Linked DNA regions of Homo sapiens: region 1 is linked to region 2. Evidence: fine-mapped expression QTL. A gene starts in region 2. The other region holds a variant in brackets. All regions are shown on one strand. Distances are between the middles of the regions.

What was found.
Region 1: its variant is fine-mapped to the expression of TOM1 in whole blood (TOPMed, PIP 0.98).

The regions. Positions count from the first base shown.
Region 1 is chr22:35,322,609-35,337,673 of GRCh38, forward strand. TOM1 (target of myb1 membrane trafficking protein) reads left to right here. Exons shown (of 15, transcript NM_005488.3): 4 at 420-569; 5 at 888-1,022; 6 at 1,160-1,306; 7 at 4,663-4,779; 8 at 7,739-7,872; 9 at 10,373-10,406; 10 at 10,796-10,889; 11 at 11,720-11,840. It overlaps MIR3909 (microRNA 3909), which reads left to right and starts at 13,032; the gene lies at 13,032-13,150. MIR6069 (microRNA 6069) reads right to left here and starts at 14,191; the gene lies at 14,113-14,191. RefSeq lists enhancers at 322-1,521, 5,968-6,262, 7,752-8,252, 14,207-15,065. The variant G/A (reference allele first, on the strand shown) is at 6,214.
Region 2 is chr22:35,295,655-35,310,354 of GRCh38, forward strand. TOM1 (target of myb1 membrane trafficking protein) reads left to right here and starts at 4,240. Exons shown (of 15, transcript NM_005488.3): 1 at 4,240-4,326. The coding sequence starts at 4,275. HMGXB4 (HMG-box containing 4) reads left to right here. Exons shown (of 11, transcript NM_001003681.3): 11 at 1-153. RefSeq lists enhancers at 3,815-4,337, 4,264-4,413, 4,338-4,860, 4,814-4,973, 5,384-5,905 and a silencer at 13,582-13,651.

The DNA of each region.
Region 1 (15,065 bases), 27 kb after region 2:
TCCTGCAGTGGGAAGTGGAGAGTGGGGAGGGAAGTTCAGTGCCTTTTCCCTGGGCCACAGGCTCACCAGTCGATTGACATCTCAGATGCTCCTTGATTTCCTCTTGGAGAGCCCCTTCTCTCTAGACCATGTTTAGCTCAGAGACAGCATTGGGATTCTGCGTGCACTGACGCCAGTCAGGGAAGGAAGTCCAGCCCACACACCATACCTCTGCCCACCCTAGGCCGTGCCCTCCAGTAAACAAGTCCCCCAGTCCTGGCATTGTCCCAGTCCTCCACATTCAAGGGTCTCACTCCAGGAAGTCCCATCTCCTCTCCCGGGCCTCCTCTCTGGGACACAGGAGGAGCCACGAGGGTGGGGGTTCTGAGCACCTCCTCTCCTCTGACCAAGGTGCTCGACGGCACCTCTCGGCCCTCCAGGTCTTAGAAACCTGTGTCAAGAACTGCGGGCACCGCTTCCACGTGCTGGTGGCCAGCCAGGACTTCGTGGAGAGTGTGCTGGTGAGGACCATCCTGCCCAAGAACAACCCACCCACCATCGTGCATGACAAAGTGCTCAACCTCATCCAGGTGAGTGCCAGGACAGGGCAGGGCACGGCCAGGAAGAGCTGTCAGTGCAGGAGCTTCCTGCCCAGTGGAGAGTCGAGGCCATCGTGTTTGTCCCAGGCTCCGCTTCTCATTTCGGGGCGTCTCGGTTGTCGGCTGGTGGGATGTTCTGTGGGGAGGGAGGCTTGCCAACTGCGTGCTTTGCTGTGGAGTGGGCAGGGCAGATGTAGTTAAAAAAAAAAAAAAAGCAGGGAAAGAATGTCTGTTCTCTGTCTGAGTGCCAGGTGGGCAGGCTCACAGGTGAGCTGTGGTTACCGGCTGTGTCCCCTTGTCCCCTCTCAGTCCTGGGCTGACGCGTTCCGCAGCTCGCCCGATCTGACAGGTGTGGTCACCATCTATGAGGACCTGCGGAGGAAAGGCCTGGAGTTCCCCATGACTGACCTGGACATGCTGTCACCCATCCACACACCCCAGAGGGTGAGAGAACTGCCGTACCGGGAACCAAGGGAAGGGAGGCAGGACTCATCCCCAGAGACATCACCAGGCTGGCCCCTGACTTCCTGGGCTCTTGATGTTCCCAGGAGCCCTCACTGATCCTGTTTTCCTCCCACTAGACCGTGTTCAACTCAGAGACACAATCAGGACAGGATTCTGTGGGCACTGACTCCAGCCAGCAAGAGGACTCTGGCCAGCATGCTGCCCCTCTGCCCGCCCCGCCCATACTCTCCGGTGACACGCCCATAGCACCAACCCCGGAACAGGTAAACGAGCCTGGGGTCAGAACCGTCAGGTCCAGGCAGGTGGGCCACACACGTCAGGGAGGGCCCCCTGTCAGAATTTACCATCCACGGAGCCTCCACTTCTTCCTCACAGCAGCCCACAGGGTATGTGTGGTTCTTCCTGTTTGAGCGATGAGACTCAGAGAGGTCCATTCACTTGCCCAGAGCACACAGTCATCAGAGACAGTTGGGATCCAAGCTCACGTCTGTCTGACTCCTGGCAGGCACTGCCCTGTACCTTGGCCATTTTCCAACCTGTGTTTTCTGCGGGGCCCTCCAACAGCACCATGGAGAGGTGTCCTGTACGCAGCCCCTTCAGGCCAGCTCCACCTGTGTGGTTTCTTACACACTCACAGCTTTCATTTGAGCTGGGCATGGTCACGTGCGTCTGTGATCTTAGCTTCTCAAAGGTTCAGGCAGGAGGATGGCTTGAGCCCAGGAGTTTGAGACCAGGCTGGGCAACATAGAGAGACCTGTTTCAAAAAAAAAAAAAAAAAAAAAAAAGGCTTCATTTGAAGAGAGGTTCTGCCTGAAAAGTTTTCAAACATCTGTGCAAAAAATAAAAAACATATGTACATTGTACCATGCTGCTTCCCATGAAGTCTCAAGAAGGTCTGAAGCTTTTTTGTTTGTTCTGAAACAGTCTTGCTCTGTCACCCAGGCTGGAGTGCAGTGGCACCATCTAGGCTCACTGCAACCTCTCTCTCCCAGGTTCAAGCAATTCTCCTGCCTCAGCCTCCTGAGTAGCTGGGACTACAGGCATGAGCCACCATGCCCAGCTAATTTTTTGTATTTTTAGTAGAGATGGAGTTTCATCATGTTGGCCAGGCTAGTCTCGAACTCCTGAGCTCAAGTGATCTACTCGTCTTGGCCTCCTAAAGTGCTGGGATTACAGGCATGAGCCACCACACCCAGCCAAGAAGGTTTGAGGCTTAGTATGAGATTCTAGGGGACAGGTTTTCCCAGCCCTCTGACTAGCTTTGAAGGATTACCCACCTCAGAGCAGGTGGCACCCTGGGCATGTCACTTCCTTCCTCCTCATGGCCCACTGGGCCATGAGCTGCTTGTGGAGTGCCATGGCTGCTGTATCTGCTGAGTGACTTCTACAGCCATGACCAGCTCGTAGAGCTGGGGGCTTGTCATTCTAGACTTTTGGCTGCTGGGGTGGGGGCAGAGGCCTGCACACTGTGGAGACACCCACGTTAAAGGTGTTGTACACACATCAGGCCCATCACATCCGCGGAGCGTAAAGGTGGAGCTGCTGAGTGTGCTGGTGAGTTAGACACGGATGTGTGATGGAAAGAAAAGTGAAGCTTAACTTTCCCAATAAGCGTCCCCACTGCCCACTTTTTGTATCATTTGAACTCATTCTCACCCTAACCTATTTGAAGAGAAACTTCCATGATTTGTTTTCTCATAGCAAGTTATGAAATCACCCCTCAGAGTTACAGATATTACTAGAAAATTTTGCTAACTGGACAAAATTATTAACGCACTGCCCGTTTGCCCCAAGAATACTCTTGTCTCTAATCCTAATGTAACCTCATATACATTTCTGTTACGTTAGGATTGGAGACAAGTTCTGTTTAGAAATAACTCCAAGAACAGTTTTTATGTTTTATTTTCATGTTGAAAATCAGTCAGGTTTACTTCAGCCTCAAAGAGCATGTTTATGTAAAATTAAATGAGTGCTGACAGCGAGCTGCACTTTTTTTTTCTGAGTGGGTTAAAGGTGTGTAAAAAATTGTAAAACCACCTTGTGATTGTCTAACTCAGTTATGATTTTAACCAATTTTCTGAAGTCTAGCATCTGTGTGGATTAAGACGCTAATTACTTCCAATGCAAGAAGGTGCTTGCTAAACAAAACTAATCTTTGTTTAATTCGAGAGTCCCCTTTTGTCTCTTGGGACATGTTAAGACATCAGGTGTGCAGTGATGTTACTCCCAGACTCCTCTGTAATTAAGTCCCATCTGATTTGGATACATGGGGTTTGTGATCAGTAGTTTTTCCACTCACTCATACCAAGAGTGTTCATTAAGTAAGCCAAATAGATCAAACATTTTGCAGGTTTTGGAAGGTGTCAGTGAACCATAGTGGATATACTACTAGTCTCTACACTCCATTTCTTCATCTATAAAAGCAGGGATATTGATGTCTACCATGGTAAAAAATTAAGTTAGCAATATATGTTCAATGCTTGGCACTTATTAGGTAGTCTATAAATGGTAGCTGCTGTCACAATCATGAATGTATATAGTGACACTCTGAAATCAACTATAACTCAGCCACATGATTTAGAATGTACCAGCATTTCTCAAAACATAAAAAGGTTCTTCAGTCAAATAAATCTTAGAAGCTTTCAGACTGATCTTTTCCCAGGCATTCCCAGTGTGCATGAGGGCATTAAACACCCTACAAGGTCCCACAGCATAAGATCCTTATACCAATGGCCTTTCACAAGCTAACCTCTTTGAGGAGACTGCAGCTTTATTGAAAATGTTTCCCCAAGCCCAACTCCTTGGAACCCTTTGACCATTGAAAACCTGCCCACATCCCTTGGAACAAGTGCTAAATCTGAGTTTCATATTCAAGGTGGGGTACAGGGCAAGGACTATCCTTAGATGAGCCTGGGACACCAAAATAGACCAGAAACAGGACAAAATCCCAGTCCACTAGGAGGAGAAAGAGGGCAGAAGCCCAGTCCACTAGGAGGAGAGAGAGGGTGGAATCCCAGTCCTCTAGGAGGAGAGAGAGAGGACGGAATCCCAGTCCTCTAGGAGGAGAGAGGGCGGGATCCCAGTCCTCTAGGAGGAGAGAGACGGCGGGATCCCAGTCCTCTAGGAGGAGAGAGGGTGGGATCCCAGTCCTCTAGGAGGAGAGAGAGGGGGGGATCCCAGTCTTCTAGGAGAGAGGGCGGAATCCCAGTCCTCTAGGAGGAGAGAGAGAGGGCAGAATCCCAGTCCTCTAGTGGGAGAGAGAGAGAGGGCCTGCAGCGTCCCTCCCCGCCTTGTGGGGAGCCACCCTCCAGGGCCTTGTTAGCTGCTGTGTTAGACCCAGGAGATGCTGGAGTCTTCCAGCCACACGTGGTGGCTCATTCCGGTGTGGAGATGGTAACGGTTGGTAGCGCCTCTGTGAGGGGTCTGTAGAAGGGGTGGGGCAGGCCTCTAGTGCAGAGCTGTCACTTTGGGAGCCAGGAGGGAGGCTGCCTAGAGAGGCTGCTGGGAGGTCGGCTCCCTGGTGCTGCACCCAGGGTTGGTGGTACTGGGTTCTGTCGCTGTGAGTAACATGGGCCCCAGAACCCTGGCTTCTCTCACCACGATCAACTGTGTGTTTCAGATTGGGAAGCTGCGCAGTGAGCTGGAGATGGTGAGTGGGAACGTGAGGGTGATGTCGGAGATGCTGACGGAGCTGGTGCCCACCCAGGCCGAGCCCGCAGACCTGGAGCTGCTGCAGGTGAGCAGGTGGCACCACCCCCTGGGGCTCAGATGACTCCTGCCCAGCTGCCCACATGCATTCTTTCCCAATCCTCATGACAGTCTTCATGGCTTACTCCATACTCCTTGGTCACAGTTGGGGACATGTTACCACCAGGGACTTTGGACGCCATCAGATTGGAATCAGATCGCAGCTCTACCACTTTCTGGTTTGAACAAAGTAGCCCCCCTGGCCTCAGTTTCCTCATCTGTAAGATTGCTCTAACAATAGCCTTCATGGCACAAGTTTGATGTGAGTTAAATAAGGTATTGCATGAAAAACACGCAGGCTTGTGCCTGGTACAGAGTAAAGCACCCAGTAAGGGGTCCTGAGAAAAAGCTGGAAGGTGAGATTTACACCATTCAGAATCCGAGACTCAGCAGGCAGGTGTGAGAGGGTGGTGCCAGCCTTGAGATGCGCCAGCCACTGATCTTGGGGAGCCAAGGCAGGTGGAGCTAGTGGTTCCTGCTCCCGGGTGTCACATGGTATTCCCACGGCCCCAGCCCAGATTGGGGGTCACTGGAGCAGAAGGGACACTGAATTTGGCAAAAAGCACCCTCCCCATGGAGGCCAGTCATAGAGGCACCAAGAGAGCTAGGAATCCCCAAGGCCCAGGAGTCACCAGAATCCATGAGGAGACAGAGCGCTTCGTGTAACTGTTCGAGTTCCTACTGCTCGTCCACCAGGCCTCAGGCTCCTTGAGGGCAGCGCTGTGTCTTCCTCGCCACCGTGTCTGTGTGCCTGACCGAGCTGACTCTGCAGGGGTCCTCACTTGGTGGTGCAGGGTGGGGAGAAAAGGAGTAGCCTCAGAGTCCAGTGAATACACAAACTTGAAACCCAGTAAGGGCTCCGAAAGAGAGAAGACTGCGCAGGCAGCCTCGCACGCCCCAAGCCAAGGCCATGAGATGTGAGCAGTCTGGGGACTCAGAAGGCTGAGCAAGGTGGATGCAGGGACAGCTCCCATGCACTGGGCACTTCCCGTGTCCCGGGCTATATGTGGACACTTGGTTCACATCGCTCACGTAATCCTGACCACCCCCATTTTCCAGGTCAGGAAATAGGCATAGGGAGATCAGATAACACGTCCAGGGTTATATGGCTGGTAAGTAGCAGAGCTGCGATTTGAACCCGGGGGCCTGGCTCCAAGTGCTGCTCTTCTGCTCTTGAGAGGGGCCAGCAGGGAAGCAGAAGCAAAGCCACCGTGTGCTTGGTCATAAGAGCAGGAGGGGAGCCCACAGGATGTTGAAAGGCACCCGCCCTGTCCCCGTGCTAAGGGCGATGAGGAAATCCCGGAGGCCTGACCTTGGAGGGGGCAGGGGACAGGGTCCACATGACAGCCAAAATAAACACTGGGCAGTGCCGAGCCTCAGCGTTGCCTCCAGGAGAAAGGCGTGCTGGCGTGAGGCCACAGTC[G/A]GCAATGCCGGGCAGCTCCCTGGACCTCAGGACCCAGGCACCTGCCGTGACCCAGGAACCTTCACCTGGTGGCAGGTACCTGAAGAAATAATTGACCAATCTTAAAAATGAAAACCCATATGGCTATGGTTTTTTATTTTTTTATTTTTTTTGAGACGGAGTCTTGCTCTGTCACCCAGGCTGGAGTGCAGTGGCGCGATCTCGGCTCACCGCAGCCTCTGCCTCTTGGGTTCAAGCTATTCTCCTGCCTCAGCCTTCCAAGCAGCTGGGATTATAGGCATACACCACCATGCCCGGCTAATTTTTGTATTATTAGTAGACACAGGGTTTCACCTTGTTGGCCAGGCTGGTCTTGAACTCCTGACCTCAGGTGATCCACCCGCCTCGGCCTCCCCAAGTGCTGGGATTATAGGCACGAGCCACCGGGTGTAGCCATTTTTTTTATTTTTCATAAGTTTAAATATGACACCTAGTGGTTAAAAGTCGGTGACGTGATAACTAAATGCAGTGTAGGATCCTAGAACAAACAAAGGACATTAGAGGAAAAACTAGTGAAACCTGAATAAAGTCCGCAGTTTAGTTAATAGTATTTTACCAGTTTTAATGTTTAATGGTAGTTTACCAGTTTTGACAAATGCCAGACTAAGGGGAAGCCAGGGTCAAGGGTATATGGGAACTTGTGGTACTATCTTTGCATCTCTTCTGTAAATCTAAAATTATTCCAAAGCTAAAAGTTTGTTTAAAAAGACAAAAAATCAGGCAGTGAGAAAAGTGAGGCAAAAACTCGAAATCGAGGTTTGTGGCTAATGGTTGCAGTCATCTAGTTCATTCTGTATGCTTTGGTTGCAAAAATCACAGCATACCCCCAGAAGTTGTGGTTTGTTCAGCCAGCCCCCTTTGCAGACTCAGTTTTTTTTTGACTAAGCAAAGATGGTGGCACAACCTTTATTCTGGAATCTGCACGAAGCCAAGTTAAACCGGCAGCACAGTTGGACATGTTGATGGTTTCCTGTGGATTAAATTTTAGCATCTAACACTTGGAAGTGAAGTTCAAGTTCATGTTTGTAGAACCCAAAAAGCTGTTCCGTGGAACCTTGAAGTCCAGTTTGGGCACCTCACCCTCCTCCAAGGCTTGTGCAGGGGCTGGAGGCCCGTGCATTAGAGATGGCCTCACTTGGCCAGGCGCGGTGGCTCACGCCTGTAATCCCAGCACTTTGGGAGGCCGAGGCAGGCAGATCGTGAGGTCAGGAGATCGAGACCACCCTGGCTAATATGGCGAAACCCCGTCTCTACTAAAACTACAAAAAAAAAAATTAGCCAGGCGTGGTGGCAGACGCCTGTAGTCCCAGCTACTTGGGAGGCTGAGGCAGGAGAATGGCATGAACCCAGGACACAGCTTGCAGTGAGCCAAGATCGCACCACTGCACTCCAGCCTGGGCGACAGAGCTCCGTCTCACAAAAAAAAAAAGAGACGGCCTCACTCTGAGTCATGTGACTGTGGTTGCCTCACTTCCTTTCCTGGCAGGAGCTCAACCGCACGTGCCGAGCCATGCAGCAGCGGGTCCTGGAGCTCATCCCTCAGATCGCCAATGAGCAGCTGACAGAGGAGCTGCTCATCGTCAATGACAATCTCAACAATGTGTTCCTGCGCCATGAACGGTAGCCCCAGCACCTCCCCTGGCCTCTGGCCTACTGCCCCAACCCTCTCCCTTCCCTTCCTCCCTGTTCTCCTGGTCTCATGCCATCTGAGCCTTCTCTCGTCCTCCTCTCAAACACAAGGCAGGCTCCTAAGGGCCTGTGCCCTCAGCTGTCTTCTTCCAGGATGTTTATGAGGGCCCCTCCTTCCAGCCGCCCTGTATCTCCTTTCCAGGGTTAGCGCTGCTGCCTGTGCCCAAGTCCAGCCCTGGGAGATGGTCACAGGTCACAGCTGAGAGCACGGCCCTGCAACCAGACTGGCCTGGTGTGTCCTCGCCCACTCCACCACTTCCTGGTTCTGGGGCCTTAGACAAGTGACTTCACTGCTGCAAGCTACACAAAACATTTCTGGCTAACTTAGGCAGAAAAAGAATTTGTTAGGATAATAATCTTTATTAAATGGGTAGCTTTCAGAATCCAGAGAAAAGTGAAACTGATGTCTCCCAACAGAACAAGAAAGATGGATCCCAGGGCAGCTCAGATGTCTCAGGAGCAGAAATTCCTGGACCATCTCCCCAGGGTGCTGCCATCAATAAATACATCAGCTCAAACACTTGTCCACAAACACCTGTCCACCTTTTTTTTTTTTTTTTTTTTGAGGCACGATCTTGCTCTGTCACCCAGGCTGGAGTATAGTGGCATGATCACAGCTCACTGCAGCCTCAACCTCCTGGGCTCAAGCAGTCCTCCCACCTCAGCCTGCCAGGTAGCCGGGACTACAGGCATGCACCACCACACCCAGCTAATTTTCTTTTCTTTTTTTTTTTTTCTTTTTGCAGAGACAGGGGTCTCACTGTGTTGCCCAGGCTAGTCTCAAACTCTTGGCCTCAAGCAGTCCTCCCTCCTTGGCCTCCGAAAGCATTGGTATTACAGGCATGAGCCACCACACCCACCTGCCCACCTTGTATCATTCTGTTCAAGAGTCACATCCCCAAGAGAGACTTGGATTGGCTGAGCTTCATTGTGCCTACCAGCTGGGGTATGGGAGAGGGCCCTTTGATGGCAGCCCCACCGGGATGATGTGAAATGGGGGAGGAGCAGTTCCTCTAAAGAGTACTTAGGTGCTATTACAAAAGAAGGAGAAGGGCTGGGCGCAGTGGCTCACACCTGTAATCCTAGCACTTTGGGAGGCTGAGCCGGGAGGATCACTTGAGGCCAGGAGTTTGCAACCAGCCAGGCCAACATGGTGAAACCCCGTCTCTACTAAAAAATACAAAAAAATTAGCCGGAGGTGGTGGTGGGTGCCTGTAATCCCAGCTTACTTGGGAGGCTGAGGCAGGAGAATTGCTTGAACCCAGGAGGCAGAGGTTGCAATGAGCCGAGATCGCACCACTGCACTCCAGCCTAGGCGACAGAGCAAGACTCCATCTCAAAAAAAAAAAGGAAAGAGAAGGAGAAGGATTGCTGGGTCTGCAGAAATTGTGTGCCCATCACACCTCCTCTGTATCTGTAAAATGAGGCTTGTGGCATAAGTGAGAGTCCATGAAACAGTGTCTGTAAAGCGCTTAGCAGTCCAGGGTGTCTGATAACTGACATGAGTTATTCCAGCCTCCTCCAGCCCCTTGTTCATTTTTTGTGTCTTTCTCCATCAAAAGACACTCACTGATTGATTCTAAATCAGTGGAAAGTGGGGGGTACCCTGCAGGTCACGTCTGCCTAGCTTCTCCTGCTCGTTGGCCCAGTGGAATGAAAGGCCTCTTCCCTGCCATTTTGGGGTATGGGCTGTGAGGTGACTGAGGGGCCCCATCTGGTAGCAGCTGGTACCCTCAGATATCCACAGTCATTAGGCTTAATATCTGACTGTGCTTTCAAGCTCGCAGTCACTTATACCCATGTCCTAATTTGGGCTTCAGCACTTCAGGGAGGCAGGTGCCTACAGATACTAGACAAGCAGACTAAAGTTCAGAAGGAACATAATTTACCCGAGGTCATGTGATAAGTGACAAGGCCACGACTTGAACAGACCCCACACTAAAGTCTTCTCGATCTATCACACCGGCCCCTAAGTAGCTCCATAAAACAAGATTAGAGATACATGTATCTTTCTTACAGCACTGAAGAGAGCACTAACACACACACACACACACACATACACACACACAAATATGTAATTGAAACAAGTTTCATAAGACAGTCCTTACCTTTACTGCGTGCCATGCATTCCTATTTTCTTTGCTGTTCTAACCTATTCCTGTTTATTTGTTTCATGCTACTCATGACTAAGGTTGCCTTATAATTGATCATCCAAATTGGGACACTTTTGCAAGGGAAAGAGGAGCACTGCTAGTTACCCAGGGACAGCAGGCATGAACTGGATCTGTCCAGGGCACACCAGACGTGTCATCACCCTGATCATAACCCACCGTGTTGATGTTGAGACCCACAGTTTGAAAAGCTCTGCCTGGCCGTGTGTGGGGGCCTGTCTCAGTCTGTCTCCATAACTCGTGTCTTTTCTGTCTTGTAGGTTTGAACGGTTCCGAACAGGCCAGACCACCAAGGTAAAAGTCTTCTTTTCTGTGACTAGATCAGGCCCTGTTCATGGGAAGAAGGAGTGCCATTCTCACCTCCCTCCCCTAGTAAACTGGACAGGGTGGTGCTGTCTTATCCAGGCCCATAGAGAAATCCCCTTCTAACTTTTTATGTCCCTGTCCCTTTAAGGTAAATAAGGCTGTGCCACCACCTGATGCCCCAGGGTCTCCCCAACCTCCCAGGGAGTCCAGTTGAGCTGGAGCCAGAGGGGAGGAAGGAAATTCCCTGATGCCCAGTCCTAGCTCCTGGGGCCCTGGTGACAGATCCCTGGGCAAAGCCTGCAAGCCACAGTGCTTGGGGCAGAAAGGAACGAAGCTGCAGACAGCGGGGATGATCAGGGCATCTCCCTTCCCACCAGGCCCCAAGTGAGGCCGAGCCGGCAGCTGACCTGATCGACATGGGCCCTGACCCAGCAGCCACCGGCAACCTCTCATCCCAGCTGGCAGGAATGAGTAAGTGTGGTTTGGAGGGCTCCAGCTGAGGGTACATTATGGTACTGTGGGCACCCCTGCAGATTTTCGGGGTGCCCTTGTTATATACCCACAGCAGAGTGTCAGTCTGGACCCCACCTTGCTGGGGTCCCAGGCTGAATCTTGCTGCAAGGTGGGGCACTCGGGGTCACTGCCCCTGGCAGCCCCACAAGTCCTGAGCCGCCTTGGATCTCAGAAATCCTACCATCCTAGGATTGGCCCTCTACACTGAATTCTCCATGGCTTCAATCATCTGCGTGAGCTTGGGCAAGTTCCTTAAACCTCCTGAGCCTCTCTTTCCTCCTCTTTAACAGGAGTAGGGAGCTCGTGTATGAGAAGCGCTTAGACCATGCCAGGCCCAGGTTGCACTCTGGCTGAGTAGTTGGCCATTGTCACTGTTATCACTGTGATAGGTTTTAATATAATTTACTGTCTGCTTCATGCCAAGCCCTAGGAAATCATTAGCACCCCATTTTGCATCACTAATGCTATACTTTTTGAAAAAATCGACTACCCATCTGATTACTGTCCTCCTGCCCAGCCACTTCCCCAGCAGAATCAATGGATAGCGTTTTGACTGTTCTCTAACGCTCACAGCAGCCCCAAGAGGGGTGAGTAAACTAAAGCTGGGAAGAGGAAGCCGCTTGCCCAAGGCCCCACAGCCAGCAGCAGGTGGCCTGCCTCGCGCATTCCCCCACCCACACGTGCCACTTCCCCAGCACCAAGCCCTGGGTCTGGCAGCAGGTAGCTCAGCAGCAGCTCACACACAAGCTTGTGGATGGGTCTTTCACGTGGCCTTTCTGTCCCTGCAGACCTGGGCTCCAGCAGTGTGAGAGCTGGCCTGCAGTCTCTGGAGGCCTCTGGTCGACTGGAAGATGAGTTTGACATGTTTGCGCTGACACGGGGCAGCTCACTGGCTGACCAACGGAAAGAGTGAGTGGCCTGGCCCTGCCCTGGTCCCCTGCAGTTCGGGTGGCTCTCGGGGTTCTGGAACCCGGTTTTATGGTGGCACACCATGAGGAAGGGCACACGGACCCTGCTTAGTAAGCACGCCCTTAGTATCCCCTAAGTCAGTCCAGCATGGCCTGGGAGCCCTGTGGTCAGTTGACAGACTGCGCTCCCCACAGGCCATGCTGGGTGGGGGAGGGGGAGCCTAATGACCCACTGTATGCCAGAATCTTACATAGTCTGATCAGAGGGGGAAACTGAGGCACAGAGAGGGGCAGGCTCATTTGCCCCAGGTCAAGGAGCTAATATTTGGCAGCACTAGGTTAGGAGCCTAGGGCTGTCTGGTTCCAAAACACAGTGTCTCCACCCCCCGCCCCCCTCCCTGCACTGTGTACCGCATAGTAAGCCCTCCAGGAGCAGGGAAGTTTCCTGATAAATCCTCAGGGACTTTCAAGTCAAGTCTTTTTCTGTTGTTCCATAGCCACCGTTAATTTCCAGAGAAGATTAAGCAGGTTCTGTCAGCCTTGCCCCAGAGCTGGGGCTCTGCCCTTCCCTGTGCACCGTGCATTTTCAGGGGGTACTTTCAGCAGCATAGGCACGTGGCCTGAGTGTGTCCACCAGGGTCTGACCCCTTGCCGGGACCTGCGGGAGAACTGGCCCCGTACAGGCTTGTAAGAGGAACAGTCTGCTTGATGTTTTCTTCAGCCTTTTGCCCACTGTGACCCCCAGGGCTGAGCTGTGGGCAGCCAGGATTCTTATAGCTAAGGAAAGTTCTAGATTATGGGATCTTCCCACTGACCCCACTCAGCTCCTTAGAGGTCATTCTGGTGTCTTTTGGAACTTTGTCAATGGGCCTCCAGAGAGCCCAGGGATAACCTCTCCACACCCACAAATCCAGGTCCAGGCTGTAGCCTGCTAGGTCCTTAGGGCTGCCCTGGCTGTTAGCTGTATCTTTCTTTAGTCTGGGCAGAGTCTGTACTTTTAAGCCCAGGTACCCTGGGACCAGCAGCTGTTGCCATGGAGTTAGGGGTGCTGCCGAGGCTACCCTGCAAAGGCAAGCTAATGAGTGTGATGGGACTTGCAGCCAGACACGCCCATCCACAGAGGCCCCAGCAGGCAACACTGCTGGCCATACTGGAGAACCCTGGCGCCTGCCCTGGTCACCAGCCTGGCTGAGGTATGCTGTTGCGCTGTCCTTCCTCTGGGGAGCAGGCTCCGGGGGACAGGGAAAAGCACACAAGGAACTTGTCCTCTAGGGCCTGCAGTCTCATGGGAGAGTGACATGCACCAGGACCACCGCTGTGAAGGGCTAAGTGCTGTCCTGGAGGGGGCACCAGGCTCTGTGGACACAGAGGAGGGAGCATGCAACTCTGCGGAGGGTACTCAGAGCTGGACCAGGTGCTGGGTGATAGGAAGGCCATTTCAGGCACTAGGAACAGCATGTGCAAAGTCTCAGAGGCAGGGCGGGAGAGAGGTGCCCTGGCTCCCGCACAGCAGCTGGGAAAGATGCTCTTCACACAGGGAAGGGGGCAGGATGCTGAGAGGGTGGTGGGGCCCACTGGGCTACAGAGAGGCAGTTGATTTTATTCTAACATGAGCAGGAGGGAGCACAGGAAGGATCTTTTTTCTTATCAGATTTTCATCTTTGAAACTGCCTTCAGCTGAGCACAGCTGAAATGACATCATGCACCTTCTCAGGCCATTGGTTCTCCTGCAGGCCCTCCCCAGGGCTTGGTTTCCACCCTGGCAGAAAACATCCAGCAAGGTCAGGCGTGGACCTGAGCATCCATTTCGTCTTCCCTTTGTTCTCCTGCCTGGCTGGCCCCCTTAAATGCTTCTGGTGGATCTTCCAGCTCTGGTCACCTGACTGGCCTTTTCTGCCAGCTTGGTGTCCAGCCCGCTCCTCCCTGTACCTGCCTGGCTCCCCACTTCACACCAGCCTGCAACCAGCTCTGCCCTGGCTGGCAGGGAAACCAGCTCCTTATCAGCCGCTGTTTCTGCTCCAGCCTTGACCACAGCTGGCACCGTCACAGCCTTCCTGCAGCCAGTCCTATCCACTCAATGCCAAGGAGTAGCAGGGCTTCTGGGCGAGCCACAGCAGAGACGCCTCGGCTAGGCCTTCACAAAGGCAGGGGTGTCCTTCCCCCGCTTTGTCCGCATCTTCGTCAGTGCTGCTGTACACAGAGGCCTTCTCTACAAGGAGCACTTAGACAAGTGTCACCCCAGTGGCCCAGGTGCAGCCCCTGCCCACCAGCCCCACTGGGACCACCTAAGGAGTGACCCTCCACCCTCCTGCACTGGGCAGGGGGCAGCAGGCCCTAGCCCAGGGGTCACCACCCAGTGCAGGAGGTGCGGGCTTCCTCCAGGGAAGTGCTTGGCCCTCCACCACCACAGGCATGGCCTTCAGGGACAGCTGGGCTTCAGGGCCATGTGTGGGCAGGGGTGGCGAGGAGCTAAGCTTAGGAAGGGCAGATAGTTCTTTTTTTTTTTTTTTTGAGCCGGAGTCTCGCTCTGTCTCTCAGGCTGGAGTGCAGTGGCGCTTGCAGAGTGCAAGCTCCACCTCCTGGGTTCACGCCATTCTCCTGCCTCAGCCTCCCGAGTAGCTGGGGACTACAGGCGCCCACCACCACACCTGGCTAATTTTTTGTATTTTTAGTAGAGACGGGGTTTCACCATGTTAGCCAGCATGGTCTCGATCTCCTGACCTCGTGATCCGCGCGCCTTGGCCTCCCAAAGTGCTGGGATTTCAGCCACTGCACCTGGCCCAGATAGTTGTTTTGAGTGAAGGGAAATCATGGGTTTCTGCGTGTTCTGGGGCTGGGCATGGCTTCTTCAGCCTTGCCCACAATGCGCCAAGCATGTCTTAGAGACAGCAACAAGCACCTCCAGACCCTCAATTAGCAGGCCTTCTCTGGGTCAGAAGTCAGCAACCTGACGCCCCACCTCCCCCGCCACTGGCTTTAAGGTTGGCTCCAGCAGGGCCCTGCCGTAGTCACTGGCCCACTTGCCATGGATGGGAGCCGTGTAACCAGGGAATGCCCCAGCTAGTGGTCACACTCCACCAGCAAACTCTGCCCCTGGTGGGAAGGAACAGACAGCAGCACTCTTCAAAATGACTGCGTGGGAACTGGGGGTCATATTCAAGAAGCCCCTTTCAGTGCCAGCCTACTCCATTCCTCAGAAAGCAAGCTGGTATTGCAAGAGTTAAAT
Region 2 (14,700 bases):
CTTTGGATTCAGACCTTCTTGCAGTTTTTATATCATTGTTTTATTTTGTTTTTTAAATAAATTCTAGTGGTTTGATCCAAATCCCATTACAGTTGTATAAAGAAATAAAATTTTGTACTTATATTATTAAAAATCACATTTTTAATATTTGTAGTCCAGTCTCAGCTGTCTTTTCCCTAATCATGATCATCATAGTTGCTATGAAATTATAAAACCTGTTTTTCACTCTATTCTACCATAATTTTCTTAAGAAAAAAATCAACCCACAATGGAGATTAAATTTCTAATCTTAGCCATTTTCTTAATATACTCCTTACTCTGCTTCTATTAACTTTTACATTGTAGAGGTTCTCATTTTCTCTTTTGCAAATTGCAAATTTAGTGAATCTGATAATTCCACCTCCATTTATTGGCAAATGAAACTATGTGCATTATGGTGTTGGCCTAAATCAAGAAAATGTTGATTAATCTTATATAAGGGTTGCATCTGAATCATGTGCTAAATGATATGTTTCAGTACTGTCCTGTTAGCATTACAGTAATGCTGTTGATAAGTTACTTAATCTTTATAGGCTTCCAAAGTCCCATCTATAGAATAGTGTTAAAGTCACTTCCCTGTCTGTAGACCTGCAGCCAGCCAGCCTGACATGAATGTTTAATAACATTATGAACACTGAATATATGGAGATATGACCTTTCAAGGTAAAAACTTCAGTGCAAACACAAGGTGTTAAAAGTCATAAATAGTAAAATAATATGATTAATTACAAGGCTAATGTCTTATGGAAAGGCAGCAAGGAAGAGACTACCGTATCACTGAGTGACTATTAGAGTGATTTGCATACTTTGTCTCACTCATCCTCCGCCCAAAGCCTTAAGAATATTATCTCCCTTTATAGATGCGAAAAAGTACTTTTCCTAAGTTTATACTGCTAGTAAATGGCAAAGGCAGATTAAGAACAGTGAAACAGCTGACCCCAAACCCTAGGCTCTTTTCTACCCCAAGCTACTTTCAGATTTAAATCATGTCTATAATTCATCAGAATGCTTTCCATTATCTCAAGTCCTGAGCGAATGTGATTGTGGGAATGCTGTCTCAGATCTTTGCATTGTTCGGGTATCTAGCTGGCTTTCACTCTTGTCATACTATTGTCTTTAAATTTTGAAGGCAAGGTATCTTGATTTTTGTCTGTAAGCACTTAAAGGATTTAATAGATTACATTTATGCAGACTGTCAATCTTAAGAAATTTGAACATTTTAACCCTCAGTAAGGCATGATATTAATTTTACTAAAACACTTAAAAAGTAAATTGAAACACTTTTTACTAAATCAGTTTGCTCCTTATTAGCACACTTTTTAAAGACAGTTTTAATCAGTTTTGTACTAACTTTAATGTTTGCCATTTACATCCCTATCTACTATGTTGATAAAATCCATATACTGGCCAGGTGCAGTGGCTCGTGTCTGTAATCCCAGCACTTTGGGAGACTAAGTCAGGAGGATCATTTGTGGCCAGGTGTTTGAGACCAGCCTGGAGAATATAGCAAAACCCCATCTCTACAAAAACTAAAAGATATTAGCCAGGTATGGTGGCATGCATCTGCAGTCCCACCTACTCAAGAGGCTGAAGTGGGAAGACACTTGAGCCCAGGAGATCAGGGCTACGGTGAGCTACAGTTGTACCACTGTACGCCAGCCTGGGTGACAGAGACTCTGTCTTTAAAAATAAATAAATAAATAAATCCATATACTTCCATTTCTGTTTCAATAGCTATATAGTAATCAGTTTGCATGGAGTTGTTTTTCTTTTTTTTTTTGAGACGGAGTCTCGCTCTGTCTCCCAGGCTGGAGTGCAGTGGTGCAATCTCTGCTCACTGCAAGCTCCGCCTACCAGGTTCACGCCATTCTCCTGCCTCAGCCTCCCGAGTAGCTGGGACTACAGGCGCCCACCACGGCGCCCACCACCACGCCCAGCTAATTTTTTCTATTTTTTTAGTAGAGATGGGGTTTCACCGTGTTAGCCAGGATGGTCTTGATCTCCTGACTTCGTGATCTGCCTGCCTGGGTCTCCCAAAGTGCTGTGATTACAGGTGTGAGCCACCGTGCCCAGCCTGCATGGAGTTTATGATTCCACTTCCTGTTTGGGGGCATATGAGTTGTCTCTGTTTTTGTTTTTTTTTGTTTTTTTTTTTTTTTTTTTTTACCATGAATAAAGTTTACAAGAACTTGTTAAAAGCTTAAAGGAAGGGCCAGAGATGGTGGCTCATGCCTGTAACCCAGGGCTTTGGGAGGCTGAGGTGGGAGGATCACTTGAGCTCAGAAGTTCAAGGACCAGCCTGGGCAACATAGTGAGACTTTGCCTCTAAAAATAAATAAATAAAGGTTAATGGAAGAATCCAAAAGAAGTTCATGCTAAACATAACTCCATATGACCAAGCAATAAGGTTAAGTGAAGAAAGACATGGAAAGTGCCTTGACCTGAAGGTCATCTTAAATGGCCTTCTCCCCGCTTATACTCCAAATACCATTACTGAAACGTAGATCTATTTAAGCTTTCATGTGCTAGTTACTGGGTTAGACAATAGTGGGGAGCAAAACAGAAATAGTAGCCCAGCCCCCAGGGACATCCAGACTCGTGGGGGCAAAGGCATTTGTGAACAGGTCTCATGAGTGTTGTGGAAACACTTCAAAGCAGTTTTTATATTGTACAGTAAAGACATCGGACCCCATGGCTGCTCAAACAAGTGAATCTACAGAGGTGATTAAGTTCTAATTTAGGTTTGTTTTTTTTTTTAAGACACAGCCTTACTCTGTCACCCAGGCTGGAGTGCAGTGGCACGATCTCAGCTCACTGCAATCTCTGCCCCCCTGGGTCCAAGCAATTCTCATGCCTCAGCCTCCCAAGTAGCTGGGACTACAGGCGTGTACCACCACACCTGGCTAATTTTTGTATTTTTAGTAGAGACGGCATTTTACCATGTTGGCTAGGCTTGTTTTGAATGCCTGACCTCAGGTGATCCACCTGCCTCAGCCTCCCAAAATGTTGGGATTACAGGCGTGAGCCACCACACCTTGCTTAATTTAGGTTTTCTGTCATCCAAAATTTGTGCAGTCAATTTACTAGCCTTTCAGATTTAAAAACCACAAACATCACAATAAGTACTTAAGCACCCACAGTAGCCAGACTACTAAGGCCATGGTTATTGTATTTTTGGAGTACATGCCAGAAGAAAAGGTCATAACCCATAGATAGGTATCTAGTGTGTAGGTGTCAGCAGACACACCACACACAGCCAGGAAGGCTGAAGAGATTAGAATCACAACGCTGGGAAAGGCCTTTGAGATTCTTAGCTTGGGGTCCACGGTTGTACTTCAGGGACCCCAGAAACTCCCTGAGGTTATAAGCAAAATTGTATCGCTGCCTTTTTTCTTCAGAAAGGCTCATGGCTTTTGTCAAATTCTCAAAGGAGACTGTGACCTAAATAAAATATTTTTTAAAAATGGTTACGAGTCCTTGATCTAATTCCAGTATCTAGAGAAAATGGGAGCTATGTTTGGCTCACACAGTAAATTTATGGCAGAGACGGGTATTAAAGCCCCACTCGTGACTACATCTGTGCTTTTTGCCATCCTGGGCGCTAGAGGGAATTGCGCTGCAATTCATTAAATTGCCTCTCAGTCTCAACAGATGACAAACCCCTTGCCCTTGCCTCTGATTTAAGGTAAGATAATTTGGGCTGCGAGCAGGGTGCATCTTGGAGCGGGGAGACCTTGACATCAAACAGGAAGAGTCTTACCGGGACAAGGAGACAACAGCCCAGAGAGGCTGTCACCCAGGGTAGGTGTGCAGTCACAGTGAGGTCCCAAGGACTAAGGGCTATGACCCTAAGAGTCTCGGCTTCTGTGTAACTCACCCAAGTCACTTCCCTGGTCTACGACCCAGTTTCCCAAATGTGTAAAGGGTCCTTTAGACCTCGCCCTAAAAGGTCAGGGGCGTGGCTTAAAGAGGACCGCGCTTCCCGGGCCCCGACCCCAGACCCTACATCGTGTGTGACGCCCGCCGCCGCCGAGCAAGCCGCAGTGAGGTCATCGCCCTCCGCCTCGGGGGCGGGACCCTGGCGTCTCAGGGCGGGGCTTGTGGTCGAGCTTCGCGGTGCCACCGCCCCGCCCACGCCTCCTCGCCGGCCTCCGAGTGCGTCACGTGACGGGTCGGTGGCGCTGGCGGTTGCTGTCAGCTGATTCCCGGGGTTGGTGGCAGCGGCGGTAGCAGCAATGGACTTTCTCCTGGGGAACCCGTTCAGCTCTCCAGTGGGACAGCGCATCGGTGAGTCCCTGGAGCCCCCCACAGCTCCGCCCCGGTGCTCCGCACCCAGCTTCGGTCCCCTGGGAAGCCTCCGGGTGCCTAGTCACGGAGGCAGGGAGGGCAAGGAGGCTGGCGTGTAGCTCTCCGACCTGGCTCCGCCCAGCTTTCCTCCCACTCTTGATTGACAAGAACTTGGGCCATTAGGAAGCCTTGGCTTGTGATAGATGTATATGACAGCCAGTAGGTAAGGAGAGAGGGTGGGTCCGGATGCCCACGGCGCAGCCAATGTGCGTCTGCTGGGGTCCCCAATCGAGGGAGAAAGTTTTCGTGGTTAAAGGGACTGCGTGGTTGGCAGTGGCTGGGCCACTCTGCTGGGTCCCGCCGCCTGGGCTCTGGCCAGCTCCTTCCTGGCTCACCGGGCCCTCCGGACACAGACACCTGAGAAGGGCTAGAAGTCCCTTCTCCCAGGACCGCGAAGCCCCGGGCTTGGCGTCTTGGGGCCAACTGGCCAGAGGGGCCCAGCGCCGGACAGCCCGCGGCCAGGCCTCACAGACCCGGGTCTCAGGACGTGTCCGCCTGGGCTCTTTTCTCGACCCAACCTCAAATGGACCCGCACAGACTCTCAGAACCTGAGCAGACAGTGGTCGGACAAACCCTCCTGGTCAGCCCATCTCGGTGCTCCGTAGGTGGGGCAGCCGGGAACTCGGGCCAAGCCAAGCCCAGGGCACCTGGCGCCTGTCTGCTGGTCCGTGGTTCTCTGCACCCTGGTGACAGGATACTCACAGTTCTGTGACGCAGCCTCCCTGGGCCGAGGTTTCCTCACCTGTAGTTGGCGGGCAATAATGGTCCCCACCTCCGTGGGCTTGTTGTGAAGATTAAATTCCTTAATAAATGTGAAATACTTAGAACAATGCCTGGTACATGGCCAGTGCCATATAAAAAAAAACAGTTGTAATATTTATTATCACTGGGCTGGGCACGGTGGCTCCCGCCTGTAATCCCAGCACTTTGGGAGGCCAAGGCGGGCAGATCGCTTGAGCCCAGGAGTTCGAGACCAGCCTGGGCAACATGGCGAGACCCCGTCTCTACAAAAAAAAAAAAAAAAAAAAATACAGAAATTAGCCGGGCGTGGTGGTGCGTGCCTGTGCACCCAGCCACTCGGTAGGCAGAGCTGGGAGGATTTATTGGATCTGGGAGGTCAGGGCTGCAGTGAGCCCTGATGGCGCCACTGTACTCCAGCCTGGACGACGCAGGGAGAGCCCATCTCTTGAAACACATACACATACACACACACACACGCACACATATATATAAAAATATACACATACAAACATACATATACATACACATACATATATATTATATGTATTTACACACACACGTTGTTCCTGAGATCACCAAGTGAAGGTTAGGAATCCCTGGAAATCGCTTGGCAGTAGATCTCATAGGTGCTCATTCTTGGGCACCAACACCATGAGAACCGACATGCCTTCACCCAAACAGCCACACTTCTCCGGAGGATGGTTTGGGTGTTCCGCATTCTTGCATGAAGAAACCATCGCATTACCGTGAAATTACTCTTCATCTTTTTTGATGACGACTTTTCGTCTTAAGTCCAGACTGGGAAAACTTTAAGATGAGACATATTTTCCATTCTTAGTGTCTTGCGAAACCTCACGAAAGCTTGTCGACCCGGCTCTGTGTTGTAATCGCCACCGTGGCTGTCGGTGGCTCTTCCGAGGTTTTGTAATCAATGCTCTCCAAGGGGGAGGTGGCAGTCCAGGATTTACACACCAGGAAGCTCCTGAACCAGGGAGAGGAACTGCCCTCTCAAAGGACCCCTGCCCTCCCCGGACACACACCCACCCCACAGTGAGTCATGGTTTTTTGGAGCTGAAAAGAGAAGGCAGCTCTCCTCTCATCTATATTTCTCTGACTACAGAAACCACTGCTTTTATCACATGCCAAGTTTAAGACTTACTACTTAAAAATAAACAAGTAAATAAAAGACCTGGCTTCAAAGTCAGCCACATACTCTTAAGGCTTTCTGGAAAAGCTCACCTGGGTTCTGGATTTCAGCTAATCAAAGCAAACTTCTCTTCTTACCTTGAAGCGTTGCCTTTCTTGGGCAAGAAATACTTCTGTGCAAAGAGAATGCTACTAAATCATAATACCTTAAAGCACAAATGGAATTTTGCAGGTAAAAGAGCCTTACCTTGGGGATCTTCTAACCCAGTGGTTCTCATCAGAATTCCTAGGAGGGCTTGTTAAATAATGTCGGGGCCCCAACCCCAGAGTTTCTGACTCTCCAGGTCTGCGGTGGGACTCTAGAATGTGAATTTCTTTTTTTTTCTTTTTCTTTTTCTTTTTCTTTTTTTTTTTTTTTTTTTTTTGAGACTGCGTTTCGCTCTTGTTGCCCAGGCTGGGGTGCAATGGCACCATCTTGGCTCACTGCAACTTCCGCCTCCCGGGTTCAAGCGATTCTCCTGCCTCAGCCTCCCAAGGTAGCCGGGATTACAGGCACGCTCCGCCACACCCGACTAATTTTGTATTTTTAATAGAGATGGGGTTTCTCCATGTTGGCCAGGCTGGTCTCAAACCTGAACAGGTGACCCACCCACCTCAGCCTCCCAAAGTACTGGGATTACAGGCATGACCACCGTGTCCGGCCTAGAATGTGAATTTCTGTTGAGTTCCCGGGTAATGCTAATGCTGTTCCAGCCCATCCCCTTCATTTTACACTGGCGGAGACTAAGGTCCAGAGAGGGGAAAGTGGAGGCTGTGACTCATCCAAGACCCCAGTAAATTGACAGCAAAACTGAGTCATTGAAATTTAAACCAAAGCTGAAGAGGCTCCAAAAGTAGAATTAAGAGTTTGAGTTAATCCCCTCAGTATTCCATATTCTTTTAGATAAAGAGGCGGAGGAAGTACTGCTCCCTGGCTGTGATTACTGATGACACAGTATAGCTGCTTATAATTCTGTAAACCAGGCCCCTCCTTGCTGCAGGAGTACCATCTCTTCTCAAGCCTGCCGACTCCCATGCCCTTGTTGATAGTAGAGCTGTAGAGCCATATGGAATTGACATCCCTCAGATGGTGATTCTAATGATGCTAATCAGGAATGAGTGTCAGTCACTGGAATCACAAAGTTCTCATCCACCTCCCCTCCCAACACACACACACACACACCCCTTTGTGCTTGCTGGTCCCTCTGCCTGGGTTGCTTGCTCCTGTGCCCCCACTGAGGAGCTCCAGATCACCCTTCAAAGTACAGGGCATCATCACCTCCTCCCTGAGGCTTGCCCCAAGCCCGACGTTGCTCTTTTACTCTCCCTTTATCCTAGATCCTCAGGCCCCCTTGCCCTATGACTTTGGGCTCTGAATCTCCGCTTCCTCCTTGGTAGAATGTTACTAACAGCATCTGCCTCACAGGGTGGTTGCTGGAATGAAACAAGATAGTCCTCTGAGAGTGTCTCGCACAGTGTGAGTGTATGGAAACATTAGCTCTTCCTGTCATCATCACCATCATCATTTTTATTATTTCTTTTTTTTTTTTTTTTTTGAGACAGAGTCTCAAAAAAGGCTGGAATGCAGTGGCACAGCCTCAGCTCACTGCAACCTCTGCCCCCCAGGTTCAAGTGATTCTCCTGCCTCAGCCTCCCGAGTAGCTGGGATTAGAGGTGCACACCACCATGCCCGGCTAATTTTTGTATTTTTAGTAGAGATGGGGTTTCACCATGTTAGCCAAGCTGGTCTTGAACTCCTGACCTCAAGTGATCCAGCCACCTTAGCCTCCCAAAGTGCTGGGATTGCAGGTGTGAGCCACCACGCTTGGCTTATTTTTATTATTTCTACCCTCATTATACTAATATGCCACCGTCCCACTCTGTTAGTGGTTGTGCATGTCTGTCTCCACAGCTAGGCTGAACCTCTTGAGAGCAGGAACTGTGCCTTATTTCTCCAGACCCTCAGCACCTAGCACGGTGCCTGGCACATAGCAGGAAGGAGGAAGGGAGAAAAGGAAAGTAACATTTTGTGAGCAAACACCATAATAACTCTGCCAGGTATTCTGCTAGCGTCCTGGGTATTAATCTCATGGTGACCCTGTGCGGTTTTGCTATTTTTTTCCCATTTCACCAAAAGTCAGTCTAAGAGAAAGCATCGCTTTCCAGGGTTCCACAGCCACTCAAGGTCAGAATCCAGACCCAGGTCTTCTTTTGTACCCTCACCACACTGCCTCGAGCTGCCCAGTGCTTCTTTTGAATTGATGTCTGTCCCACCCTCCAAGAGCCACAACTCTTATTCTACCCTCAGATAAGGACATGTACATGGGTCTCACACTTGCAGGCCCCTCCCCTCATCGATGAGTAGGGGAGCTTCCCAAGGGCAGCACCCGTAGCTGAGAGGATTCCAGATCCTTTGTACCAGCTGGTGTTGTCACAGCCCTCTTCTTTCAAGGATTTCAAACCCTTTCCAGATATTCTCTGCAGACAAATCTTACTGGATCTGTTTTGTTTTTTGTTTTTTGTTTTTTATGAGACAGAGTCTCACTCTGTCGCCCAGGCGGGAGTGCAGTGGCGCGATCTCGGCTCACTGCAAGCTCCACCTCCCGGGTTCACGCCATTCTCCTGCCTCAGCCTCCCAAGTAGCTGGGACTACAGGCACCCGCCACCACACCTGGCTAATTTTTTGTATTTTTAGTAGAGACGGGGTTTCACCGTGTTAGCCAGGATGGTCTCGATCTCCTGACCTCATGAACCACCCACCTCGGCCTCCCAAAGTGCTGGGATTACAGGCGTGAGCCACTGCACCCGGCCTACTGGCTCTGTTTTATAGACAGATATCAAGAAACCCATTTTCCATTTCTGGCTGTCAGCTTACCCCTAAGCACTTGGAGTCCAAATCCTAGCTGATTGCCAACAGTAAGTTGCAAACAACAGAGATGGTAAATATGGGCAGTCCCTGGGGATGAGCCTCAGTGGTTGGGGTGGTGGGAGCTGGGTGTGAGGGGAGAAGAGCCCAGAGCCTGAAGACTGAGCCCTGGAGGGGAAAAGTGAAAAAGTCAGAGAGAGCTGTCTTTGAATCCACAAAAGCCAAGCCGGGGGAGCCACAGGAAGGAATCACAGAAGTGAGAGACCACTTCAGGCCCTTGGGGGCCAGTTGGGGAATGATGGGCTGGAAAGTGGACACTTAAGCGATGTTGAGGAGACACCAGGCTGGGAGGCGGGACACCTGGTTCCAGCTCTGGTTCTGCTCCTAACTATGTCACGGTCCCTCTCCATTGCCCATCTCCCCTATTGGCAACACAGAGGTGCTGTCATTCTCCCTCTGCTTCCCAGAGGATTGGTAAGGAACGACAGAGGTCATATATAGGGACAGGGAAGGGTTGATGCCAGAGGGAAGAAAGAAACTGATGGCGGGCCAGGCACGGTGGCTCACGCCTGTAATCCCAGCACGTTGGGAGGCCGAGGCGGGTGGATCACGAGGTCAAGAAATTGAGACCATCCTGGCCAACATGGTGAAACCCTGTCTCTACTAAAAATACAAAAATTAGCTGGACGTGGTGGCACACGCCTGTAGTCCCAGCAACTTGGGAGGCTGAGGCAGGAAAATTACTTGAACCTGGGAGGCGAAGGTTGCAGTGAGCCAAGATCACGCCGCTGCACTCTAGCCTGGTGACAGAGTGAGACTCAATCTCAAAAAAAAAAAAAAAACTGATGGGTGCTGGGGAGGACTGATAGAACTGAATGTGCAGGGCTCCAAGGGCATGGTGTGTGGTTACAGGAATAAGCAGTTCGGTTTCAGTATAAATAGCTATCCCCAGAGCCTTGCAAAGATGGAACTGGCTGCCTTGTTCAGTAGTGAGCTCCCCACCACTGGAGCTGTGAAGGCAGAAGCCGGGGTGGGGAGGGCGACTATAAAGAGGATTCCTGTGTTGGTTAGCAGACTAGACCAGGGTCAGTGAGCTTTTTCTATAAAGGGCCAGATAGTAAATACTTGTGGCTTCGTGAACCAGATGGTCTCTGCTGCAACTACCCAGTTCTGCCATTATAGCACAAAAGCAGCTACATAGGCCATAGGTAAATGAATGAGAATGACTGTGCATAAATAAAAATATTTATGGGCAATGAAATTTGAATTTCACGTAATTTTCACATATCATGAAATATTATTCTTCTTCAGCTTTTTTTTTTCCCAACTATTTAAAAATATAAAGACCATCTGTAGCTCGAGTACCATACAAAACAGACTGAATTTGGCATATGGGTTCATAGTTTGCTGACTTCTGAATCGGAGCAGCTGGCCAGAGGCAGAATGATGGAGCACACTGTTCCTCAAAGTGGGGTACCAGAGCACCCACACTGGGGATGCTTGAGGGTGCTTATCCCCACAGTGTGCCCATGTGAGCCCTAATATCTTGAAGCTTCTGTTTCCTGATCCGTAAGTACAGGACCCACATTAGATCCCCAAGTTTCTGTCTTGAGGATGACAGAGCTTTGTCTAGAAAGGGCTTTGTATCAGCTGTACACATATTAGTAGAGCCCAGGGTGAGCTTGAGTCAGACTGAATGGTCTGAGTCCTGGTTCAGTCCTCAACAGCTTTGTTACCAGGAGCAAGTTACTTAACCTCTCTGTTCTTCAATGTCCTCGTCTGTACAATGAGGATAATAATAGCACCTATCAGATAGGGCTGTCGTGTTGTTGTGCTATAAAGCACTTCCTGCCAGACAGGAAGTCTCTGTAATTATTAGCTGTTGTGATTTTTCACTGGTGTTATCATTCCTGGGACCCAGTCTAAGTTAGTAGCCAAGCTAAGTGCCAGCCCAAGATTCTGACTCCAGTGCAGCCTTTGTGATGGTCTTTGTGTCCCTGGCAAATGAGCGGTCACTGGCTGGGTGGCCACCACATTCACAGACAGGTCAGGTTTCAGGCTGTGGGGAGGAGCAGATTCTTACTTGGAAATTAAGGCCTTTGCCTTCCCCTATGGATAGAACTGGTGAATAGGTTTTATTCCCTTAGTGAGCTCAAAGAAATAAGAGTATAGTCCCAGACTTCCACTCTTCTGGTTTTAGAAAAAAAAAAACCCAAACCCTCAGTGTCTCCTAATTAGCTTGAGGCCATCACCCCATGAGAAGCAGGGGGATTCAGGACAGTTTAACTCTTTACTGCCTTACTAAGGAGATCTTGATCTAGGCCAGTGCCCTCCAAACTTCTGTCTTTCATGTAGCTCATTTGTGATTTGTGTCTACCCCCATGCCACCTTCATTATTATTTTCGTAGGGTTTTCTTTTCATTAGCTTATCTGTTAAAATTTGACCTCATCCTATATAATTATATCCATGAAATCATGGCTTTGATGTTCGTGTTTTTTTCCTATCCTGCATTAAAGTAAATAATGCAGGAGAGGAAAAATTTAATGTCCCTCTAAAAATGTCTTTAAGTTTGCCCATGAGCCCACCTGGCATGATCCCAGGTAGCTCATTTTGATCACTGGGACGTAAGCAGCCTGAAATGGGGTCACAGCTTAGTCTCCGCATCAGAAGAGCTGGGTTCAGGTGCCAGCTCCGCCCCTTCCCGGCTGTGTCCCCCAGGTCTCCTCCTCAAGGGACACGGGAAACTTAGAAGTTGATAGAGCACTGCAAAGTGCGGTGGAGAACCACTGTGCAAGCCCTGAGGAGGGGAACTGGGCCTCGCTCCTGCTGGGGAAGGTAGAGAAGGGAAGGACGGAGCCTGGAGTCTTCCCAGAAGGGAAGGACGGAGCCAGGGGAGAAGGGAGGGGGAGAGAAGAACCAGCCAGACCACAGGGGCTGAGACAGACAGAGAATTTAGGGACAGACAGAGGGGTCTACTGTTTGAACTTGTTTGTGTTGGTGCAGTATAAACCCTGTAGTGGTTAACTTTATGTGTCAACTTGGCTAGGCCAGGGGAGAAAGATAGTTGGTCAAACATTATTTTAGATGTTTCTGTGAACGTATGCCTTAGATGAGATTAACATTTAAATCACCAGACCCGCGTAAAGCGTATTGCCCTCAATAACATGGGTGGGCCTCGTCCAATCAGTTGAAGGCCTGAATAGGAAAAAGACTGACCTCCCCAGAACAAGAGGGAACTTGGCCAGCAGGCTCCCCTTGTCCTTGCACTTGGACAGCATCTGTTTCCTGGATCTCCAGCCTGCCAGCTCACCCTACAGATTTTCAACTTGCTAAGCCTTCACACCTGCATAAGCCAATTCCTTAAGCGCTCGCTCTTTCTCCTGTGTGTGTGTGTGTGTCTGTCTCTCTCTCTCTCTCTTTCTTTCTGCTAGTTCCTTTTCTCTTTTTTTTTTTTTTTCTTTTTTTTTTGAGACGGAGTCTCACTCTGTTTCCCAGGCTGGAGTGCAGTGGGGCAGTCTTGGCTCACTGTAACCTCCACCTCCCAGGTTTAAGCAATTCTCCTGCCTCAGCCTCCTGAGTAGCTGGGACTACAGGCGCGTGCCACCACACCTGGCTAATTTTTATATTTTTTGTAGAGGCAGAGTTTCACCATGTTGGCCAGGCTGGTCTTGAACTCCTGACCTCGTGATCCTCCCGCCTTGGCCTCTCAAAGTGCTAGGATTACGGGCATGAGCTACCACAGCCAGCCTAGTTCCTTTTCTCTAGAGATCCCTGACTAATACAAAGCCCACTCCACCCCTGACCATCCAGATTGTCAGCAATACCTTTTACACTCCCAAGTGGGGAGTGAAAACAAATGCCATCTGTACCTCAGCCAGCCACTTCAAGCCTCTGCCTTCACAGCCTCACTTCTTACCTGGGGAGTTTTAGAAAACCTTTCTTTATCTCACTGACATTTCCTTTTGTTAGGTACTATAGTTAGTTACATCGACTTTAACATTGTGGGTTGCGGAAGCAATACCCTCTGTAAGGTATTTTAGGGTTTCTCTTGTGGTTTATGGTTAAAAAAAATACAGGGGAGAGGCAGCCAGGGTTTTGAGGAAGGGTGGCTCAGCAAATTAGGAGATGGATGGAACTTTCCACGCTGGGTCTGGAAAGAGTTATTCCTTTGGAAAATAGTTTTCAAGACAAGTTTCTGGCTGAAAAAAAAATAGCTTCTGCATATTTGTGATTTAAAAATCTCTTATGGGGTGCTTGAAATTCTCAATCATGTTGTGGTTGATATGTTTGTAGAGGATAGCATTTATTTTGGTGCTTGAAATGTATACACTCCTCCTCACACATCCCTGGAAGGTGAGTGCTTTGGTCATCTTTATTCTGTAGAGGAGGAACTGAGGCACAGAGAGGCCGAGGAGTTACCCAGGCTCACACAGCTGGTAGGTGCTGGAGTCTGGGCAGGATTTGTCTGTGTCTGCATCCCATCCTCCCAACTTTTCCATCTCACCGATTCCCCCTTAGAACTGAAAGAGGCCAGGCGCAGTGGCTCACACCTGTAATCCCAGCACTTTGGGAGGCCAAGACAGGCAGATCGCCTGAGGTCAGGAGTTCAAGACCAGCCTGGCCAACATGGTAAAACCCCATCTTTACTAAAAATACAAACATTAGCTGGATGTGGTGGTGGGCGCCTGTAATCCCAGCTACCCTGGAGGCTGAGACAGGAGAATCGCTTGAACCGGTGAGGCGGAAGTTGCAGTGAGCCAAGATCGTGCCACAGCACTCCAGCCTGGGCAACAGAGTGAGACTCCATCTCAAAAAAAAAAAAAAAAAGAGAGAGAACTGAGAGACCTGCTGGGTTTCCCTTTGAGTGACAACATCTGTGTCCATCTAGAATGAATTCGTTCAGTAGTGGCTTCTTCTGTATTTCTGCCTAACCTTCTTGACCACATTGGTTTCATCCTCGTGCTTGCATTCTCACGGTAGGAAGCACAGGTGAAAGTACCAACTGTCTGTGTCTCTGTTACCAAGAAAGCAAAACCTTCCCCAGGAGCCGCCCAAGAGACACCCGCTTCCATCTCTGTGGCCAGAAGTCCCAGGGCTACTTCTGGCTGCAAGGGGGTCTAGAAAAGCTAAATGCTGTGAGCCCAGGGGGAGCATCTTCCACAACTATTGGAGTCAGCTCCACATGGTAGGGTTAATAAAAATTTCACATAGTCACTGAGTACAGTAATAGAAATACAGTATCTAGCAAGGACAGGTAAATGTGGCGTGTGGGTTCCCACACTGCATTTCCAGATGGACAGCATGGCTGGCCTATATCCAGAGGGGTCGGTCAGAATAGGGTGAAGGCTCTGGAGATCATTATCAGAGTGGAGTGGTCACAGGTCCTGAGGATGTTGGAGGACAGATTAAGGAGGGACGTGGTACTTTTTAAAAGTATTCAAAGGGTCACGGTGGCTCACGCCTGTAATCCCAGCACTTTGGGAGGCCAAGACGGGTGGATCACGAGGTCAAGAGATCGAGA